3 linked regions of the Homo sapiens genome follow. The protein of the gene in region 1 purifies or fractionates together with the protein of each later gene. This does not show direct contact. Each region holds a gene or a part of one and is shown on either strand. Other genes may lie near its edges. The genes, in order: SLC47A1, TCTN2 and POMK.

Region 1 (7,104 bases):
ATCGCAATCTCCGCCTCCTGGTTTCAAGTGATTCTCCTGCCTCAGCCTCCCGAGTAGCTGGGATTACAGGCATGCACCACCACACCTGCTAATTTTGTATTTTTAGAAGAGATGGGAGTTCTCCATGTTGGTCAGGCTGGTCTCGAACTCACCACCTCAGGTGATCTGCCTGCCTTGGCCTCCCAAAGTGCAGGGATTACAGGCATGAGCCACCACTCCTGGGCCAGTGCTGGATTTCTTATTTAGTAATTAAACAAGTATTTATTGGGAGACAGTCTTCTAGGTTCTAGTTTAGAGTGACAAAACTCACTCCAAGGGTGTTGTGAATTTCCTGCTTCCCCAGGTCAGGGCAGCATTTTTCTCATCTCCCTTCACATGCAGAGGTTAGAATCCAAGTCTCTAGCTTTAGGGGTTCCATTTCTAGGAACCAAGGATAATTCTGCAGAATATATCTATGGCCTTTACCAACCTTCGTTCCATAGAGGGAACTTAATTTTTACTCTGTAGTGCTTCACTGAGGCTTACTAGGAGACACAGTCAGACTTGGCCTGTGGCATCATCTTAAAAGAAGGATGATCATAGCATCCAAACTTGCCGGGATGATAGGTGCGTGCCACTGTGCCCAGCCAAACTTCTTTTCAGCTGATGGGGAACGGGGGAGGGATGTCACCAAATCCCTTGATTTGTCTACACTGACCAGATGGACTATGCGGTAACCCCTCTTTATCCTTGGTTTTGCTTTCCAAGGTTTAGTCACCTGCAGTCAATTTTGGTCTGAAAATCTTTTTTTTTTTTTTTTTTTTTGAGATGGACTCTCGCTCTGTCGCCCAGGCTGGAGTGCAGTGGCATGATCTCAGCTCACTGCGAGCTCTGCCTCCCAGGTTCACGCCATTCTCCTGTCTCAGCCTCCCCAGCAGCTGGGACTACAGGCGCCCGCCACCACGCCCGGCTAATTTTTTTGTATTTTTAGTAGAGACGGGGTTTCACCATGTTAGCCAGGATGGTCTCGATCTCCTGACCTTGTGATCCGCCCGCCTCGGCCTCCCAAAGTGCTGGAATTACAGGCGTGAGCCACCGTGCCTGGTGGTCTGAAAATCTTAAGTGGAAAATTCCAGAAATAAACAATTCATAAGTTTTCAATTGCGTGCGGTTATGAGTATTAGGAGGAAATCTCACGTCCCGCCTGGGACATGAAATCATCCCTTTGTCCAACATCTCCACGCTGTGTGTGCTTTCCACCCGCTAGTTATTTCAGATTGACTGTTTTGGTATCACAGTGCTAGTAATCCCAAAGCACAAAAGTAGTGATGCTGGCATGTGGTTATGGCCTACTTTATTACTACTGTTGTTACTCTCTTACTGTGCCCAAATTATGAATTAACATTATCATAATGTATTTGTGTATAAGGAAAACACAATGTATTTAGGGTTCAGTCCTCTCTGCGATTTCAGGCATCCACTGGGGGACTTGAAACATATCTCTTGAAGACAAGGGTGTGGTGCTGCCTATTTTTTCTAAAAGCTGTGAGATACAACATGCAGTTAGTTTCCTCTATGGACCCAGCAACAGGTGAACTGTCCCTGACTAGGCTGCTGGCCTCAATGCATGTGCATGTCTGTAATATGCAGAAAGCTATATACTTTTTTTTTTAAGACAGTCTCGCTCTGTCATTCAGGCTGAAGTGCAGTGATGAGATCTCAGCTCACTGCAACCTCTGCCTCCCGGGTTCAAGCGATTCTCCTGCCTCAGCCTCCTGAGTAGCTGGGATTACAGGTACCCACCACCAGGCCTGGCTAATTTTATATTTTTAGTAGATACGGGGTTTCACCATGTTGGCCAGGCTGGTCTCAAACTCCTGACCTCAGGTGATCCTCCCGCCTCAGCCTCCCAAAGTGCTGAGATTACAGGCATGAGCCACTGCGCCTAGCCAGAAAGCTATATACTTCTTTCTCCACTTTGTCTCCTAATCACCACGTGCTTTATTTTCCTAACAGAGACATCATTAATCTGGTGGCTCAGGTGGTTCCAATTTATGCTGTTTCCCACCTCTTTGAAGCTCTTGCTGTAAGTATTATGTAGTAGTCCCCTAAGCACTGTTATGATCTTCTGATGGTGGTAAATTTCAGCTGAGAGGAGGGGCCAGCATAGGTAGGAAGATTGAATATTGTTACCACATTTCGTTTAGAAGGATACTGTCACCTTACCATGGATTTTAGCACAGAATATGAAGTGCTCGGGAGATGGGAGTGTTTCAAGAGCGCCGGATGTGTTCACAGTGATGGAATGCTCTCTGCCTGCAGTGCACGAGTGGTGGTGTTCTGAGGGGGAGTGGAAATCAGAAGGTTGGAGCCATTGTGAATACCATTGGGTACTATGTGGTTGGCCTCCCCATCGGGATCGCGCTGATGTTTGCAACCACACTTGGAGTGATGGGTAAGCTCTAACCTCTGCAGGCAGGGCTTAGCTGCTCACCAGCCCAGGAAATGACCGTCGGAGCACACGGGTCTTTGACTGAGGCTCACCTCTGAAACTCGGGAGCTCGCCCACGTCCATTCTGTGTCTTGTCAGAGAGTGTAGGGGGCGTTCAGGAGGTGACCTCCAGCTCTAGCCAGGGCCCCAAGGCTATGTGGTCCTGCCCCTCACACCCCTGCGGGCGATCTTCCACGCTGACACACTTGAGCACAGATGCCCTTTCTACCAACCTCCTATCCTGAGTCATCCAGCCCTCACTTCTCTAAAGGAGGCAACAGCAGGGACCGCTGAAGAAGCATTTGGAAGCATCCCCTTAGTGTGTTTCGTGCTGTTCTTTAGAGACAGCATGTGAGCCCCTGAGGGTGACTCTGCAGGGCCAGGGCTATCGTAGGCGGTCCTGCGTGCGTGGGGTGCTGCAGGGTCTGCACTCACGGTGGCACTCTGCATCCTAGAGCAGTGCCCCATGTGCTCACCAAGCAGCATGGCTGGATCCTTGGAGGGCAATGGGTGGCCAGTGCCCTTCTCATCACCCTCATCGCACTCCGCAGCCTCCACCTCCCTCCTTGTGCAGCCTTAGCTCTGTGCCCCCACAGAGCTCCCCACAAGGCCATACACGTGGTCGGTGTGAACAGCACAGAAGGAAGGGGGCGGACTTGAGCACCTTCCCACATTTGGAAGAAAAAACTTAATCCACAGCATCTGAAATTACCAGAGCTAATCTTTTTAAAAAGTACGGAAATAAATGACTGCCCAGCTTTGATTTCTAAAATAATAATTTGGAACATATTGGCAGTTAATAAATGATGATATGAAAACCTGGACATTTATCTTTGGGGTGAGTAGTGACTGACTTAAAGCGTGGCTTGTTTTGATTCATCTGTACTTGGCAGGCTCAGAGGTGGTGAGAAGTCAACTGATACCTACAGGGAACTTCCAGTTCAGTATGTTCCTTTATGTGGCACATTTTTCTCAAGTTCAATAATATTTTAATTAAAAATACAGGAGTTGTTCAAAGAATAGTATTGCCAATGCAAAGTTCATTGGGCTTGCATGATAGTGCAGAAAATTATTTAGCTGAGTTTCTGGTGCGATTCATAGTTTGGATTTGCCAATTGCCTAGCTAATGCAAATATTATAGAAATCTAATTTATTTTTATTTTTAAAGTAATGTATTTTATGTAACACAATATGTCTAAAATTATTGCAACGTGCAATCAGTATAAAATATTAAGGAAATAATTTAAATTCTCTATATTATATCTTTTAAACTTTAAATTGACAAATTATAGTTGTATACATTTATGGGGTACAGTGTGGTGTTTTGATATATGTATAAAATGTGGAATGATTAAATTAAGCTAATTAACATACTTATCACCACTTATTTTTTATGGTGAGACATTTGAAATTTACTTAGTTAATTCAAAATGTGCAGTACATTGACTACAGTCACCCTGGTGTGCAATTGATCTCAAAACTTATTCTTCCTGTCTATCAGAAATTTGTACCTTAACAACTCCCCATTCCCATGCCCTCCCCTCCTTGCCACCAGTCCCTGCTAACCATCATTCTACTCTCTACTTCTATGAGTTCAACTTTTTTAGAAGAGGAGTCTACTTTATTCTCCTGTTTCATTTTTTACAGATGGGGTCTTGCTATGTTGCCCAGGCTGGTCTCAAACTCCTTGACTCAAGTGATCCTCCCACCTTGGCCTCCCAAGTATCTGGGATTACAGGCATGAGGAACCTGCTTTGAAATATAAATCCATCTGTATCCCAAGTGCCGTCCTTGGCTCACCTATTCATTTAACAGAATATATCTAGGCCAGGCACAGTGGCTCATGCCTGTAATTCCAGCACTTTGGGAGGCTGAGGTGGGTGGTTCACTTGAGGTTAAGAGTTTGAGACCAACCTGGGCAACTTGGCGAAACCCCGTCTCTACTAAAAATACAAAAATTAGCCAGGTGTGGTGGTGTGCGCCTGTAGTTCCAGCTACTTGGGAGGCTGAGGCACAAGAATTGCTTGAACCCGGGAGGCGGAGGCTGCAGTGAGCAAGATGGCACCACTGCACTCCAGCCTGGGCGACAGAGTGAGACTCTACCTTAAAAAAAAAAAGCGTAACTAATTGTGCAAAGTAGAAGAGGAAGTTGAGAATCACTGAAAAGAAATGGTGGGGGCCCTGGGGATGTGAGGGCTCTATGAGAAGCCTATAGTCAATCCCCCCCACCCACCTATTAGAAGAAATTGTGGTACGAATTGGTTTTGAGTATTGTGTCTCCTGGTATGGTATGCAGTATACCTATACAAGGTGTCTAGGAGAGCATCAGAATTCTGCAGGTTCTCAGAAGCAACCTCAGGAAATCATAATGACCCTCAGAATCCCTGGGAGACATTTTAAATATGTAAATTCCTGGGCCTTGCCCATGAGATCTAATAATCATCCCACTTTGGGCTCATAGGTTGGGTCAAATAGAAATCTTTTAAATGATGTATGCTAAAATTATTGGAAATCTAATTCATAACTTTCAAATTATAGCTGGAGTTAGCTGGTTATTTCCTGTTTAAGGTGGTTCAGGTGAGCTTGTAGTTTCTATGTACTGAGAACACTGGATTTGAAAGAGGAAGCCAGTAGCTTGCTTTTACTAATTTTTTATAGGACTAGCAGGTGGCACCAACTATACTATTCTAAGAGCAGGCTAGGCTGGGCGTAGTGACTCATACCTATAATCCTAGTGCTTTGGAAGCCAAGGCAGGAGGATCACTTGACTCTAGGAGTTGGAGGCTGTAGTGAGCTGTGGTCATGCCACTGCTCTCCAGCCTGGGCAACAGAGCAAGACCCTGACTCTAAAAAGCAAACAAACAAACAAAAGGGCAGGCTGATCATACCTGAAAAATGTGATTGGTACCAAGAAACAGAGCTGTAAAACCTGTACCGAATCCATAAACCAGGAACCCAGACTAGCCACCTTAACCCTTACATAGATCTGGACAGCTGTGGAAATAAACCAGGACCAACCAAGCAAGACAAGCAAAGTCTGTGTATTCTCAGCAAGGGTGTTGGCTGCCACCACTTGCATTTGGGCAGAAACTCAAAGGCAGGCAAAGGAGTGGGAAAGCGTCACAGTGGATAAAAGGGGAGGCTGCAGGTGTGTCCTGAGTGGAGATTGTTGATCTGGGGGATGCTGGAGGTGGCTGACTAGAAATGGGCCTCCCATGTGATTGGTTAGGGGGATGTATTTTACTTTCTCTGGTTGGTCCTAAGTTGGAAGTGCAGACCAAAATTAGGCAAGCTGTCAGTTGCTAATCAAGTCCTGGCCATCTGGGGCCAATCGTTACAGAAGTTACTGGTTAGCTTCCTGGATTGTTACCAAAGGCAGCGATCTTGCTTCCTGCAAGTCTGATTTAGGGAAGGCTGGCTTCCTGGGTTTATTGTAGATGGGGTGGGGTTTCTTGGGCAGGGTGCTGCAGGTTGTGAGGCAGAGGTCTGTTTTTATTACGGTCAGGACTTTGTCTCTTGGTTATTGTTGGAGCTTTTGGTTCTGCCATTAGTTTACTGTTGACCAAAAAACCCTCCTCACCTGGGGTCTCCCTCTGTGCCCTGTGTGGTGCCTTGAGATTCACAGGGCTTTTCCCGCCATCCATTCCCACCTGGCCTGCCTTTGGTGTTCTCCAGTCATCTGTAGGTGCTCAGCCCTGCTCTGGAAGCTTCTAGCAAAGTCTGTGTCAGAAGCAAGTTAAGGTCCAAGGTCTGGCAGGAACTCTGAGGAAGAGAACATTAGTAGTTTATATGGCTAGTGATTTCTGCTTTTTTTTTTTTTAATGTTAGTCCCCTTTTTTGAGGAAACCAGGGCAGAAGTAGTTGGTCCTGGGAAATTTTAATTTCCTTATAACTGGCATTTTTCTTAATATTCAAGCATTATAATCAGTAAGGCCAAAAATATCCTCTGAATATTTGTTCCGAAATCCTGAACCAAAAGAGATGGCCCTTTTGGGGGTGGCCTCAAGGAGTACTGGGCTTTCCAGAACCTTCTGGAACCTTCTGGAAGCCTGAGGAGGAGCAGGATAGAGGTCTCTGGCCCGCTGTGGGCTCCACCTCAGCCATGAAAGCAGATATTCAGTATGGCTGACAGAAGTGATATAGGCAAAACATACTCCCCAGGGGCAGCTGGTTTTCTATGGAATTAACCTCTATTAAATATTTCTATTTCTAGGTCTGTGGTCAGGGATCATCATCTGTACAGTCTTTCAAGCTGTGTGTTTTCTAGGCTTTATTATTCAGCTAAATTGGAAAAAAGCCTGTCAGCAGGTAACTATGTTCATTCTGTCCCGGTAAAGGTTCCTCTCCTAGAAAAACAGGATCTGATCTGGCTCTCCCTTTTTTCTTTTGGAAAGTTCTTTTCTCATTTTCTTTATTCTTATCTCATGAATACTATTGTTCTTGTTGTTTTAACTAGACAGTTCAGATGTGAAGGGCCAGATGATCCTGGCTTTATCTATTCCCAGAAAAACAGGGGACTCCTTTCTTCCTTGTCTCCCATGCCAGGCTGTCACCCTTGTGCAGGAAAATCCAATTTCAGGACAAGAATTAGAACTGGAGAGAAATGTGGGATGCATCAAAGTCATCCTGATGTT
Region 2 (7,931 bases), on another chromosome or scaffold:
TCTTGACGATGATTCATGTGCTTAGAAGAATGTATTCTATAGCCATTAGATGAAATGTTCCATAAATATCTATTAGGTCCATTTGGTCTATAGTGCAAATTAGGTCTGATGTTTCCTTGTTGATTTTCTGTCTGGATAATCTGTCCAATGCTGAAAGTGGGAGGTTGAAGTCTCCAACTGTTATTGTACTGGGGTCTATCTCTTTCTTTAGCCCTAATAATATTTGCTTTATATATCTGAATGCTTCAGTATTGGCTGCATATATGTTTACAATAGTTATATTCTCTTGCTGAGCCTCTTATTATATAATGACCTTCTTTACCACTTTTTTTTTTTTTTTTTGAGACAGAGTCTCACTCTGTCACCCAGGATGGAGTGCAGTGGCATGATCTCAGCTCATTGCAACCTCCACCTCCCGGGTTCAAGTGATTCTCCCACCTCAGTCTCCCGAGTAGCTGCAATTACAGGCACCTGCCACCACGACCAGCTAATTTTTTTTTTTTTTTTTTTTTAGGCAGAGTCTCGCTCTGTCGCCCAGGCTGGAGTGCAGTGGTGTGTTCTCAGCTCACTGCAAGCTCTGCCTCCCGGGTTCACGCCATTCTCCTGCCTCAGCCTCCCAAGTAGCTGGGACTACAGGCACCTGCCACCATGCCCAGCTAATTTTTTTGTATTTTTAGTAAAGATGAGGTTTCACCATGTTAGCCAGGATGGTCTCAGTTTCCTGACCTCGTGATCCTCCCACCTCGGCCTCCCAAAGTGCTGGGATTACAGGCATGAGCCACCGAGCCCAGCCTAATATTTGTATTTTTAATAGAGATGGGTTTTCGCCATGTTGGCTAGGCTTGTCTTGAACTCCTGACCTCAGATGATCCACTCACCTTGGCCTCCCGAAGTGCTCGGATTGCAGGTGTGAGCCACTGCGCCTGGCCTCTTTTTTTTCTTTTTCTGTGGAGATAGCATCTTGCTGTATTGTCCAGGCTGGTCTTGAACTCCTGGGCTCAAGCAACTCCTGGGTTCCTCTTGCCTCGGCCTCCCAAAGTGTTGGGATTACAGGCATGAGCCATCACACCTAGTCTTAAAATCTATTTTATCTGATATAAGTATATAGCTACTTTTGCTCTTTTTTGGTTTCCATTAGAATATCTTTTTCCATCCCTTTATTTTTAGTCTATGTGTGTCTTTATAGGTGAAGAGTTTTTATAGGCAGCTAATCATTAGGTCTTTTTTTTTTAAATCTATTCAGCCACTCTATGTCTTTTGATTGGAGAGTTTAGTCCATTTACATTCAATGTTATTATTTATAAGTAAGGACTTACTACTGCCATTTTTAAATTTGTTTTCTGATCTTCCCTTCCTCCCTTCCTTCCATCTTCCTTTTTATGAAAGTGATTTTCTCTGGTGGTATGTTTTAATTTCTTGCTTTATATTTTTGTGTATCTGTTGTAGGCTTTTTGATATGAGTTTAGCATGAGGCTTGCAAATACCATCTTATAACCCATTATTTTAAACTGATGACAACTCTGATTGCAAAAACAAGCAGAGAAAACTAATACTCTAACTTCATCCCTCTGATTTTTAACTTTTTGTTTCTACAATATTTATATCTTATTATACTATGTCTTAAAAAGCTGTAGTTATTATTTTTGATAGGTTTGCCTTTTAGTCTACTACTCAAGATATGAATAGTTTACATATTTGTAGAGGTGCCACCTTGGTGATCTTGGGTACGATCTTGGAGAATTCCCTGGATCACCGTTAGCAGTGACGAGTCTGTACAGGTCTGCAGCAACTCGATTCTTGCCTCCTCAGAGGAAAGAATTTGGCCAAGCAGCATAAGGCAGAGTGAGAGACCAAGGCAAAGTTTAAAGCAGGGGTAAACGTTTATTAAAAAGTTTTAGAGCAGGAATGAAAGGAAGTAAAGTACACTTGGAAGAGGGCCAAGCGGGCGACTTGAGAGATTCAAGTGCCCCGTCCGACCCTTCACTGGGGGTTTCTATACATTAGCATGGTTCTGAGGTTTGTGCCCTCCCTTGATTTTTCCTTGGGGTGGGCTGTCTGCATGTCAGTGGCCTGCCAGCACTTGGGAGGGGCCGCATGTGCAGTGTGTTTACTGAAGTTGTGCGCATGCTCATTTGAGGCATTTTCCTTTACCAGTCGAGCCTTCCCAGAGGAAGGTTATATACCAGTTAAAATCTGCCATCTTGCCTCTTACTATGTATGCATGAGCCTGCTTGCCCAACTCCTGAGATCTTATCGGGAAGCTGCTGATCACCAGCTTCAAGTGTTTTCTATCTTTTTTTTTGAGATGAAGTCTCACTCTGTTGCCCAGGCTGGAGTGCAGTAGCGCGATCTCGGCTCACTGCAACATCCGACCCCTGGGTTCAAGCGATTCTCCTGCCTCAGCCTCCCGAGTAGCTGGGAGTACGGGCATGCGCCACCACGCCCAGATAATTTTTGTATTTTTGGGTAGAGATGGGTTTCTCTGTGTTGCCCAGGTTGGTCTTGAACTCCTGGCCTCAAGTGATCCATGTGCCTTTGCCACCCAAAGTGCAGGGATTACAGGCATAAGCCACCAAGCCCGGCCCAGAAATGTTTTCTTTTGGGAGGATTTATCTCTTAATCTTTACCGCTTGGCCTTGCCAACTTAATTTGCAGATTAATTCCCCCCAAAGACAGATGGGGAATAACAGAAATATTTAAGTGTTTGACAGCTTCCTCTTAGTAACGTTCTCCTAGGCTTCATTCCAAGATATCAAGAGAGGTAAACATTTTGCAGTCTTCCAGAGAGGAGCTGAGGTACACGGGAAAAGTTTCATGCTCATGTTACAACTGTAGTGACCCACAGTTTTTCAGGGAGTATAAGAAAAAGATAACACCCAGTGTCAGGCCCTTATAAAGCCTCAACTTTCAGAATCCTTTCACAATGTTAGATTTGCTGATCAATGAATATATAACTGAACATTAAGAGTAATAATGGGGCTGGGTACGGTGGCCCATACCTGTAATCCCAGCACTTTTAGAGGCCAAGGCAGGAGGATCACTTGAGCCCAGGAGTTTGAGACCAGCCTGGGCCACATGGTGAAACCCCGTCTCTATAAAAAATACAAAAATTAGCCGGGTGTGGTGGTGTATTGCCAGTTACTTGGGAGGCTGAGGTGGGAGGATCAGCTGAGCCCAGAAGTTTGAGGATGCAGTGAGCTATGATTGTGCCACTGCACCATTCCAGCCTGGGTGACAGAGTGAGACCCTGTCTCAAAAAGAAAAAAAAAAAAGACTAATAATGGCAAACATTTACTTGGCATTTACCGTCAGTCAGCCACAATGCTGAACACCATGATTGTCTCAGCTAAAGGATACACCACCTCTCTGATAGTTAACAAGTAACTGATCATTAACTGAGTGCTTACTGTATGCCAGCCATTGGTTTAACCTCATTAGATATGTTACCTCATTTCATCCTCACACAATCCCCAAGGAAGGATTATTATCATCCCTTTTTTATAGATGAGGAAGCTGAAACTTAGAGAGGTTGACTTGCCCAAAGTCACTTAACAGCTGAGAATATCTGTGGAGGGAAGGCGAAATCCCATGCCAGGCAGCCTGACCTCAGACCCTGCACTCTCAGTCCCCAAGCCGTGACAATATTTGAAATGTTCTGAGGCTACTGATATAAGAAAAAACAATTTTTTTCCAGACAGAATTTTGATTCTTTCACATCTGTCCTATTGCTGGGCAAAACCTCTTGTGTGTTCTGTGATTGGATCTGCTTTCAGAGTGCTGAGAGCTCTGTGCAGGGGAGAAAATCCTTCAAAAACCTAGGAGAATGATAATAAAAGCAATAGTGATAATAAATGATAATGATAAGAATTATAAAAATATAAATTTTATAAAATTATAACATATAAGTATAAAATTTACAAAATATATACTTATATAAAAGATAAATATATATAAGATAAAATATAAATACATATATATTTTATAAGATAAATAAATAAATAAATATATTTTTGAGACGGAGTCTGGCTCTGTCGCCCAGGTTTGAGTGCAGTGGTGCAATCGCGGCTCACTGCAACCTCCGCCTCCCAGATTCATACAATTCTCCTGCCTCAGCCTCCTGAGTAGCTGGGATAATAGGCGCCTGCCACCACGCCTGGCTAATTTTTTGTATTTTTAGTAGAGACGGGGTTTCACCATGTTGATCAGGCTGGTCTCAGACTCCTGACATTGTGATCCGCCCGCCTCGGCCTCCCAAATTGCTGGGATTACAGGCATGAGCCGCCAGACCCGGCCTATATGTATTTTATATATATCAAGTATGTATATCTGATATATATATATAAAACAAAGTATATCTATTTTGTAAATATATATTTATTTTATAAAAATATAAAATATAAATAATACATCATAAACGATAGTAAAGATAATAAACACAGCGCGGCAGCCCCATCCCCTTTTTCTACTCACCCCTAAAACAAATCCGTATAAAAATCAAGTTTATTAAGGAGCAAGTCCCACCCTTTTTATTTAGAAGCCAGTGTCTATAGGATCGCTCTTGGCTATTGTTGGATTAATTCCAGGGTAGGGGAAAACTCCAGTTTTTGAGCCGGACACGCACTCCTGCTTTTCAGGACCTTTTTAATTTTGATGTTTTCAACTTTTAGGCCCAGGGGTCCATGTACAGGTTGCTATATAGGTAAATTGCGTGTCACGGGGGTTGGGTGCACAGATTGTTTCGTCACCCAGGTACTAAGTGGAGCACCGGATAGGTAGTTTTTCAGCCCTCACTCTCCCCACCAGAGTCAAGCAGCAAAAATGCTAGGCCTTGTGGGCGGGGCCGGGGTGCCCGCTCTTGCCACTGGTCCAATCACAGCGCGGCGTTCCTCCTGGCCGGCCGCCGATTGGTGGTTGCCATAGCTCCGGGCGTTCGCTTGCAAGATGGCGGCGGCGGGGCAGTGGCTGCTGCGTTTTCGTGTCTGAGTCCTTCCTGGGTTCTAATGAGGGCGCGGTTCTGCTGTGCCCGGCCCGCGAGGTCTAAGGCATGGGCTTCCAGCCTCCGGCCGCTCTTCTTTTGAGGCTTTTCCTTCTGCAGGGCATCCTGAGGCTTCTGTGGGGGGACCTGGGTGTGTACGGCGCGGCAGTGACCTCGGTGGGCCGGGGCTGAGGGGACTGGGCGTTAAAAGGGCCAGACTTGGACTCCCCCGGGAGCTTCGGGAGTCGACAACGCCAAAGCAAGCCGCCACACACACCTTAGGCGGTGATTCTTCCACTGCTAACCCCTCCTTGTCCCCTTTCCTTCCCGCCTAGCTTTCATCCCTCCTTTTATCCGAATGTCCGGCCCTGCGGTCAGCGCGTCCCTGGTCGGAGACACCGAGGGTGTGACCGTGTCCCTGGCAGTGCTGCAGGACGAGGCGGGTAAAGTCCGGCCCTCTTTTGGGGAGGGTGGGGGTTGGACTGGATCCAGACCTCCCAAGGAGCCTGGAGAGGTGGCATCCTTGGGGCCCCCTGCCTCTGTTCTCTGCAAAGTCGCATGGGGAGAAAAGGATCGGGCGGCTGCTGTAGGCCAAAGAGGACAGACGGACAGGTTCGAAGAAAGCCTGAAATAATAATGGTTAGCATTCATTGAGCTAACATCGTGCATCATCCCATTTTCCTAGTAAGAACAGTAATATCTTTTCATCCCCTTTGACCAAGGAAGAAACAAGTTCAGAGAGGTTGTCACTGTCCCAGTGTCAAGCAGCTTGTAAAGGGCCCAATCTTAGGCTGTAATGTGAGTCCATCCTAGGCAGTCTGACTCAATGCACCCCCTGAGCTGCTGGACCTTGCTGCCTTTGCATGCTGGTCTTCTTTCTTTAGGAATATTGCCAATTCCGACGTGTGGAGTGCTGAACAATGAGACGGAAGACTGGAGCGTGACTGTGATCCCCGGTGCGGTAAGGCCAGAAGTAAACCTTCTCTGTAGCCTGTGAAGAGGCCCCCAGCTAGGGTTTCTGCAGTGCTCTCTTTATTTAACAAGGCATGGCTTTCTCCATGCTCTCAACAATCATGAAATTGTGGGCTGTTGGATCTGGTAGACACTTATCCAGCCCACGGGTTCCTTACCCTGGGGTTAGGAGTCCTTGGATGTATTTCAGTGGGTCTGTGAACTCTATGAAATTGTATGTAAAGTTCTGTGTGTATGTGCATTTTTCTGATGAGAGGGTCACCAGTTTCCTTTAGATCATCAAATGGGTCAGTGATTCAAAAAAGCTTTATGCCAGGCATCGTGGCTCACGCCTGTACTCATAGCGCTTTGGGAGATTGAGGCGGGAGGATTGCTTGAGCCCAGGAGTTCCAGACCAGCCTGTAACATAGCGAGACCTCGTCTCTACAAAACAATTAAAAAAAAAATTAGGTGGGTGGCGTACACCTACAGTCCCAGATACTTGGAGGGGGGTGGGGTAGCTGAGGCAAGAGGATTATTTGAGCCCAGGAGTTCAGGGCTGCAGAGAGCTATGATCGCACCACTGCACTTCATCCAGCCTGGGCAACAGAGCAAGACCCTGTCTCTTAAAAAAAAAGAAAAAGCTGGTCAGGCGCGGTGGCTCACGCCTGTAATCCTAGCACTTTGGGAGGCCGAGGAGGGCGGATCATCTGAGGTCAGGAGTTCAAGACCAGTCTGGCCAACATGGTGAAACCCATCTCTACTAAAAATACAAAAATTAGCTGGGCGTGATGGCGGGTGCCTGTAATCTCAGCTACTTTGGAGGCTGAGGCAGGAGAATCACTTGAACCCGGGAGGCAGAGATTGCAGTGAGCCGAGATCACGCCACTGCACTCCAGCTTGGGTGATGAGCGAGACTCCGTCTCAAAAAAAAAAGCTTCATAACCACTGATCTTGCCCAACTCTGAGCTTATGTGTAAGGATACTCAAACCTGGAGAGATTAAGCATCTTCTATTTAATAAGTGTTTATTGGATACCTAGTATATGCAACATCAATTCTGGAGAGAAAAGGACAGGAAAGACAAGCTCTGCTTGTACCCCAGGAGTGAACATGTACATGTCTAAAGTCATTCTGGGATAAACTGAGGATTGTTTTCATTGACTTTTTTTGTGTATTTACTCTTCCACTGATAGGATGATAAAGAAACTAAAAAGGTGTACAATAAACTGAGTTTATTTATCAGATCTGTGTTTAGCTTTCTCTAAGTATCCCGAAGTTGTTTGCTTTTATGTTAAGGAAGAAGAATCAGGGCTTGCATGTTACCATAGGTTTATGGGGGGGAACTGAAGATAACTGTGTCATCTCTGTATACATTTCCCTTTTATAAAATGAACGGAGGCTGATGTGTACTTTTATTGTGTTTTCCATTATGTATTCTTATAGACCCTGTTTTGAGTCACTTTAAAAATACAGCAATGTTTTCCTTTCAGAAGGTGTTGGAAGTGACAGTGAGGTGGAAGAGAGGTCTGGACTGGTGTTCCTCCAATGAGACAGATTCCTTCTCAGAGTCCCCCTGTATCCTCCAGACCCTTCTGGTTTCAGCATCTCATAATTCATCCTGTTCAGCACATCTACTCATTCAAGTGGAAATTTATGCCAACTCTTCTCTGACCCATAATGCCTCAGGCAAGTGAAGTCTTTGACTGTCAAAACTTTCATGTTGTTCCCAGCTACTTAGGAGGAAGAGGTAGGAGGATTGCTTGAGCCCGGGAGGTTGATGCTATAAATGAGCTGCCCGGGAGGTTAATGCTACAAATGAGCTGTGATCGCGCCACTGCGTTCCAGCCAGGGTGACAGAGTGGGACCCTGTCTCAAAAAAAACCAAAAACAAAAACAAAAAAAGAAAAATTTGTGTCAAGCTTACCTGTTTGATTATAAGTGTATGCCATGCAATTTGTAAAGTATACTTCACTTGAGTCTGTCTTGCTTTTCTAAACTTATTT
Region 3 (7,172 bases), on another chromosome or scaffold:
TGAGCCACCAAAGAACTCTTTTAGCAGTTCTGTTAGAGTAGGTCTGCAGGCTACAAATTCTCTTAGTTTTCCTTCATCTTAGTTTATTTCAAGGTTATTCCTGAAGGATGTTTTCACTGCATATGGAATTCTGGGCTTGCAATTCTTTTCTTTCAGCACTTGAAAAACGTTGTGCCACTTTGGTCTTCATGATCTCAGAGGATAAATTCACTGTCATTAGGATTGTGGGTCACCTACAGCTCGTGGCATTTCTCTTTGGCTGTTTTCAATTTTTTTTCCTTGTCTTTATTTTTCAGCAGTTTGATTTTGATGTGTCTGGGCATGGATGTCTTTGGATTTATTGCATTTGGGGTTTGCTCAGTTTTTTGAATCTGTAGGTTGGTGTTTCTTTCCCAAACTTGGGAAGTTTTCAGCCATTATTTCTTCAAAAGCTTTTTAGTGCTTTCTTTCTCATCTGCTTTGGGATTCTGATGGCATAAATATTAGACCTTTTGTTATGTCCCACAGGTGCTTGAAGTTTTATTAATTTTCCCCTCCTCTCTGTTGGTCAGTTTGGATAATTTCTATTAATCTGTCTTCATGTTCACTGACTCCTCTGTCATTTCCATTCTGCCATTGAATCTATCCAGTGAGTTTTAAAATTTGATTATTGTACTTTTCTATTTTAAATGTTTATTTGGTTCCTCTTACTTTCTCCAAGTTTTTTACTCATACTTTCTTTTTTAAAATTATTATTTTTTATTTGTTTGAGACAGAGTCTCGCTCGGTGGCCCAGGCTGGAGTACAATGGCACGATCTCGGCTCACTGCAACCTCCACCTCCCAGGTACAAGCGATTCTCCTGCCTCAGCCTCCTGAGTGCACCTGCCACCATGTCCGGCTAATTTTTGTATTTTTAATAGAGACAGGGTTTCACCATGTTAGCCAGGCTGGTCTCGAACTCCTGATCTCAAGTGATTCGCCTGCCTCAGCCTCTCAAAGTCTTGGGATTACAGGCGCGAGCCACTGTGCCCAGCCCCATACTTTCTATTTTAACTTTTGTTTCAAGAATGTTTATAATTTTTTGAGCATTTTCATAACTAATGTCTTTTTCAGATAATCCTAACAGTCATTTTATAGTTGGTGACTCTTGATTATCTTTTCCCATGCAAGTTGAGATTTTTGTGATGGTTCATATGCCTAGCAATTTTGTATCCTGAGCATTTTGAATATTATGAGGCTCTAATTCTTGTTTAAATCCTATGGAGAATGTTGGCATTTTAATTTTTTTTTTTTGAGAAGGAGTCTTGCTCTGTCACTCAGGCTAGAGTGCAGTGCTGTGATCTGGGCTCACTGAAACCTCTGCCTCCTGGGTTCAAGTGATTCTTGTGCCTCAACCTTCCGGGCAGTTGGGATTACAGGCATCCGCCACCATGCCCGGCTATTTTTTTTTTTTTTTTTTTTTTAAGTAGAGACCGGGTTCCACCATGTTTACCAGGCTGGTCTCAAACTCCTAACCTCAGGTGATCTGCCCTCCCTAAGTGCTGGGATTACAGGTGTGAGCTACCGCGCCTGGCCAACAGTTTAATTTAAGCAAGCACATGAACTAGTTAGGGACAGCCTGCAGGTTCCGATCTTCTTCTGGGGTTCATGTTCCAAAGTGAGTTCTGTGTTCATACCCTCTGTGGGGCTATTTGGATCTGTCTCGTGGCTGCATCCTCCCGTAGTTTGGTACCTGAACAAAAATCTGTTCATGAGCACAGTTCTCTGAGTGTTTGGTGTGCTCGTTAAGTCGATGATACGCAGGTCAGCGATGAGCCCAAGAGTTCAAAAACAACTCTGTGAGGTTGCTTGCCAGATGCTCTCACCTTCCGCTATCTTCTCAGTGTTTTTAGGTTCCCTCAGGTTTCAGTGCGCTGGTCTGAAACTTCCCACTTTCAGTTTGGCTTGGGGGAGCTGCCCACTTCCACAATTGTGCCACAGCAGTGGGAAACAGTTAAAAACAACAAAACACCAAGTTTGTGTCTGTCCTCTTGGAGCTGCAGTGCTACTGAATGGAAAGGACTATCTCTTTCCCTCAGACTTTTGGCTGCTGAAGCTTTTTGCTCTGGCCTTGGGCTTGACTGGGGGCTGGAGTGCAAAGAAAAGAAGAAAATAGAAAGAACAGGGAATTTTCTTCACTCCCTCTGAGGGTTAGGAGTTTCCTTTTCTGCTCCACGAGCCAGAATCAGAGGGTTTCTCCCGAGTCTCTGTGTGTGCCCCCGACACTCAGTTCCAGGCTTTGGACTACCTTCAGCTTGAAGATGGGTGACACAACCAGTTTGATGGTGCGTCAAATTCTGCTGTTCTTTTTATTTTTAATTTTTTGTTTGAATTTAATTCCTCTAATTTTTCATCAGTGTTAAAATTTCACCTTTTCCCAGCACCCCCAAAAAGCCTGTGGGCACAAAATGGTGGCCACGTGGCAAAGAACTCAGCAAGGAGAGCTGCTGGTTGGTTTCTATCTTTGTTTGTTTGAGACGGAGCTTTGCTCTTTTGCCCAGGCTAGAGTGAAGTTGTTGGGGAAACCAGCCCCACACCACCCGGCGGGTACCCCGAGTCCAGCGAAGACAAAGGAATTAGAATAAGAGTTTAAAAGGCGGGTCCGGGGGACCGGAGCGTTGGAGGCTTGCTCACGGCCCCGAGCTCTCGGCCTCCACCCAATTTATTGGTGTATATTCACACTGTTGTGCAACCATCACCCCCATCCATCTCCAGGACTTTACCATCTTCTCACACTGAAACTGTGCACCCGTTAGTATTTTTCATGGCTATGTGGATGTAATATAATTTCTTTCAGAAACCCCTATTGTTATACATTCAGGTTTCTTTTTTTCTCTATTATAAATATCTTTTATCAGCAATGCTTCAGCAAGATCTCTTGTGCATACATCTTGCAGACATATTATTTCTTTTTCTTTTTTTTTTTTTTTTTTTTTGAGACGGAGTCTCGCTCTGTCACCCAGGCTGGAGTACAGTGGCGCGATCTCGGCTCACTGCAAGCTCCGCCTCCCGGGTTCACGCCATTCTCACGCCCGCCACCATGCCCGGCTAATTTTTTGTATTTTTAGTAGAGACGGGGTTTCACCGTGTTATCCAGGATGGTCTCGGTCTCCTGACCTCGTGATCCGCCCACCTCGGCCTCCCAAAGTCCTGGGATTACAGGCATGAGCCACGGCGCCCGGCCACAGACGTTATTTCTGAAGGATAAATTCCTAGAAATGGATTTGCTAGGGCACGTAGGAGGAATTCCAATTTACACTCACTTGTATGTGTGAGGAAACTTTCAGACTCTACTGTAACGACAGGAGGTATTACCGCTGTTTGTCCATGTGATAGGCAAACGTTTCTGTTAATTTTAATACTGTTTGGATAGCTAGTACCGGCTCAGTTTTTTTAACCCACACCATGTTACTGTCTTGATTCTGGACTTTCGCAGTGTGTCAGTGTAGAAGCAGCTAACGCTTCCGATGTACACAACCTAGACGTTCCATGACCCAGCTGACTTCGATGCTGCAAGCCTCCCTTTCGGTTTCCCGGAGCAAGCGCCCGAGTGCGTGTTGGGCTCCCGGCAGGGCTCCTGGCCGGCCCTCGACGGACTTCCCCGCCTTTGCCCAGTCCTGCCCCTCCGCGGAGGCTTGCCAAGGTCTTGTCTGCTGCGCTTGATGTGTGCAGCTCAGCTTTACTGCGTCTAGGCTAAGCCCCACAGTTTCTTTTACAGAGCGATTGTCCAACTTCAGGCATCTGGGTCCCCGAGTGGCGGGTCTGGGCCGGAGCTGGGAATCAGCCTTTCCAGCAAGGTCCCTGCAGATGCCGCGGGTCTGAGGACTACGCTTTGGAAGGCCTCGCAGTGCGTCTAGATCTGACAGCTGCTCTGCATGAGCCTGGCTCCAGGCTGAAGCAATAGTCGGTCAACACAAAATCGTTCTCCCAAGTTAGGGAAGCAGAAGCCAGACAGGGAGACTGGGTAGGTGCGCGCTGGTACCGCCGCGGCGTTCGCTCCGGCTTCAGTGCACGGCCGGAGGAGGACGCCAGGGGGCAGCAGCGCCACGCTCACCCGCCCAGGACGCGCTTCCGAACGCGCAAGCGCAGTAGGCCCAGTGCGTGCTGGCCCGGGGTGGCAGGAGCCGCAGAGGCTTGGGCTGCAGGTAGGTGCTGCGGCGAGGGGTGAGAGGGCGAAGGGGCGAGGGGGCGTGCAGCTGGGTTTCCCGGGGGACCCTGTACGTGGCCTGGGCCGCACCCCCCGCAGCCCCGGCCGCCTGCCCGCGGCCTGTCCGGAGGCTCCCTAGGAGGCTGCGCTGGGCCTGAGCGGCCGTGTCCACCGCGCCCAGCCCCTATCTCCGCGTCCACCCCTGCGCGGTAGCGGGACGTTAAAGAACCAGAGAAGGGCCCGGCGAGGTGGCTCCAGCCTGTAATCCCAGCGCTTTGGGAGGCCGAGGCGGGAGGATCGCGTGAGCTCAGGCGAGAGCAGCCTGGGCAACATGGCGGAACTTCTGTCTCCGTAAAAAAGCACTTAGCCGGGCGCGGTGGCGCCGCCTATAGTCTTATCTACTCCGGAGGCTGAGGCGGGAGAATGCTTGAACCCGGCGGGGGCGGAGGTTTCAGTGAGCCGAAATCGCGCCACTGCACTTCAGCCTGGGGGCCAGAGTGAGAGGCTGTTTCTATTATTATTACTTTATCATTATTATTATTATTTGAGACGGAGTCTCGCTCTGTCGCCCAGGCTGGAGTGTAGTGGCGCGGTCTTGGCTCCTGGGATTACAGGCGTCCGCCACCACGCCCGGCTAATTTTTGTATTTTTAGTAGAAACGGGGTTTCCCCATGTTGGTCAGGCTGGTCTCGAACGCCTGACCTCAGGTGATCCGCCCGCCTCTGCCTCCCAAAGTGCTGGGATTACAGGCGTGAGCTACTGGGTCCGGCAGAGGCTGTCTCTGTTTAAAAAAACAAAAACCAAACCAAACCAAAACAAAACAAAAAACAAAAAAACCAGAAAGGACCGAGGACTCTGTCTCAGCTCTTTGCCTTTGGGTGTTTATTCTGCACGAGATCATTGTTGCCAGGAGGTGTTAAGTGTAATCATATTCTCTTTTTTTTAGAAAGCAAAATTTCGCTGTTTTGTTGCATAATCTTGTCTTTGCCACCCTTTGCCTTTGCTATAGAACCTTAAGGCTAAATAAGCGTTCAGAATATTTAAAATAATCCTCTTAATGTACCTTGTGCTTTATTGGCGCAATGGAATTCTACTCTAAACTGTATTGGATGACATTACTCTGTGTCTTCCCTAGTTGTAGAAAATATCTTGTAAGTCGGTAAAAACTAGTTTTGTCCCTTTGCTTTTCTTTTCTTTTTAAGCTGTAAATGTGGAGCAGTGGGTCCCAAGCCTTTCTCTATCAATAAGCCTTCCTATCAGTGTCAGAAATGCTTTGCATTTCAGTCGTGCCTGAATTTCTTCTGCCCAACCTGCCCCACCATCTTTATTCCTTAATGTGCAGGCTGTTTTCAGGACCAGTAAATTTCAGTGGTTTTTGCTTACTTCTGGACACGAAAGTTCCTTTAGCCACACAGCCTCATGCTATGCTCTGGGCGGCCTACTCCAGAATATGCCTGTGAAACAAAAAAGCAAATCGGGGTTGAGGTGGGCTGAAGTCTTCTTTAAGAAACCGGCAGTCCCAGGGTACCCCAGCCCAGCCCCTAGCTGACCACGCTGGGTTTGATTTAGTTCAACTCCCGAGCATTGCGGTATTTAGGGGAAGAATGGGCTTGAGGCCAGAAAACTTGGCTCTTCTGTGTATAGTTCAGTGACCTTAGATATATTACTTCACCTCTGACTCAGTTGTCTTATCTGTGAAATGGGAATAACAACAATTACATCCACTTCACAGAATTGGTGTGAAGTTGACAGTGTATAAAAGTCAAATGAATTTTGGGGTATTTTTTTTATTTGTTTTGTTTTGGTTTGGTTTGGTTTGTTTTTGCCGAGAGAGGATTCAGAAGTGAATGTGAGGACTTAGGGATATATAAAAGGTTTTTGGGGCATATGAAATTTGGATTCAGCAAGAAATGCATTAAAGGTTTTCTGAGTAATGCTGAGGGTCCAAGAGAGATTAGAAAATATGCATTTCTAGAGTCCCACAGAGTTTTGTAGCTGATGTTGGCAGCCTTTGAGTGGAAATGAAGAAGTGGACAGGGCAAGTTACATGGGTCTGGTGAATGACAAGCAGATCTGGGTTTATGATGAAGCCTCTAGCCTCTTCACTTGCACAAATACCTTCCAAAACCTTGCACAAATCCTCTTGCCAAAACTCTGGCAAGAGGCTCAGCACTTTTACATTCATAACTATTCTTCTCTTAAGGAATTACCACTCCTTGCCCCAACTTGTATAAGCTTCAGGCCCCATAAAACCTGAATCCACTAGTGGCAAGGAAGGATTGGTGGGAGGTTAGGGGTAAGGAGGGTTGGAGGGTTGAAAGGATTTATCGCAGGGTTTGAGCTGGGAAACTTGGATTGGAGAAGGAGGTGGCAGATGAGGGTCCTCAGAAGACAGGAGCCGTGAGGAGAGGAAGAGCGGATTCCGTGGAGCGAACACAGGAGAGGGAAAGCAGCCTGTGCGGCTGAGGCCATGAAGAGGGAGAGGTGCAGAGTGACCAGGCAGTTGGTGCGTCTTTGCCGAGTACCCGCTGTGTGCCAGGCACTGGGGTGCAGTGGTGAACAGGACAGGCAGGCAGGCTTCTTGGTGCTCAGAATCTAGAGGAAGCCGGGGCCTGGGTATCCCAGAAAGGGAGCCTTTGAGGAAAGCTCAGGGGCCAGAGAGTGTGGTGCAGGGAGGGTTTAGGGAAGCAGATAGGGGCTAGATTTCAGGAGGCCACATAAGAGTTTGGACTTGATCCTGTGGGCCGAGTGGGGGGCTGTTGAATGTTAAGCAAGGTGGGATCAGATCCGTGCTTTAGAAAGCTCTCCCTGCATGGGCCGGACATGGTGGCTCATGCCTGTAATCCCAGCACTTTGGGAAGCCAAGGTGGGCGGATCACGAGGTCAGGAGATTGAGACCATCTGGCCAACATAGTGAAACTCCGTCTCTATTAAAATACTAAAATTAGCTGGGCATGGTGGCACGTGCCTGTAATCCCAGCTCTGTAATCCCAGCTACTCAGGAG

What was found.
Region 2: the proteins of SLC47A1 (region 1) and TCTN2 purify together in Homo sapiens (affinity purification with mass spectrometry; 3 studies listed by BioGRID and IntAct, with this or other methods). This does not show direct contact.
Region 3: the proteins of SLC47A1 (region 1) and POMK purify together in Homo sapiens (affinity purification with mass spectrometry; 3 studies listed by BioGRID and IntAct, with this or other methods). This does not show direct contact.

The regions. Positions count from the first base shown.
Region 1 is NC_000017.11:19,564,795-19,571,898, forward strand, and holds part of SLC47A1 (multidrug and toxin extrusion protein 1), read left to right. Parts: intron 1-1,995; coding exon 1,996-2,065; intron 2,066-2,301; coding exon 2,302-2,434; intron 2,435-6,050; exon of another isoform or gene 6,051-6,683; coding exon 6,684-6,778; intron 6,779-7,104.
Region 2 is NC_000012.12:123,666,197-123,674,127, forward strand, and holds the start of TCTN2 (tectonic-2 isoform 1 precursor), read left to right. Parts: upstream 1-4,916; 5' UTR 4,917-5,044; coding exon 5,045-5,126; intron 5,127-5,310; coding exon 5,311-5,418; intron 5,419-5,859; coding exon 5,860-5,936; intron 5,937-7,418; coding exon 7,419-7,614; intron 7,615-7,931.
Region 3 is NC_000008.11:43,089,399-43,096,570, forward strand, and holds the start of POMK (protein O-mannose kinase), read left to right. Parts: upstream 1-4,116; 5' UTR 4,117-4,165; intron 4,166-7,172. UniProt on the Homo sapiens protein: Protein O-mannose kinase that specifically mediates phosphorylation at the 6-position of an O-mannose of the trisaccharide (N-acetylgalactosamine (GalNAc)-beta-1,3-N-acetylglucosamine (GlcNAc)-beta-1,4-mannose) to generate phosphorylated O-mannosyl trisaccharide (N-acetylgalactosamine-beta-1,3-N-acetylglucosamine-beta-1,4-(phosphate-6-)mannose).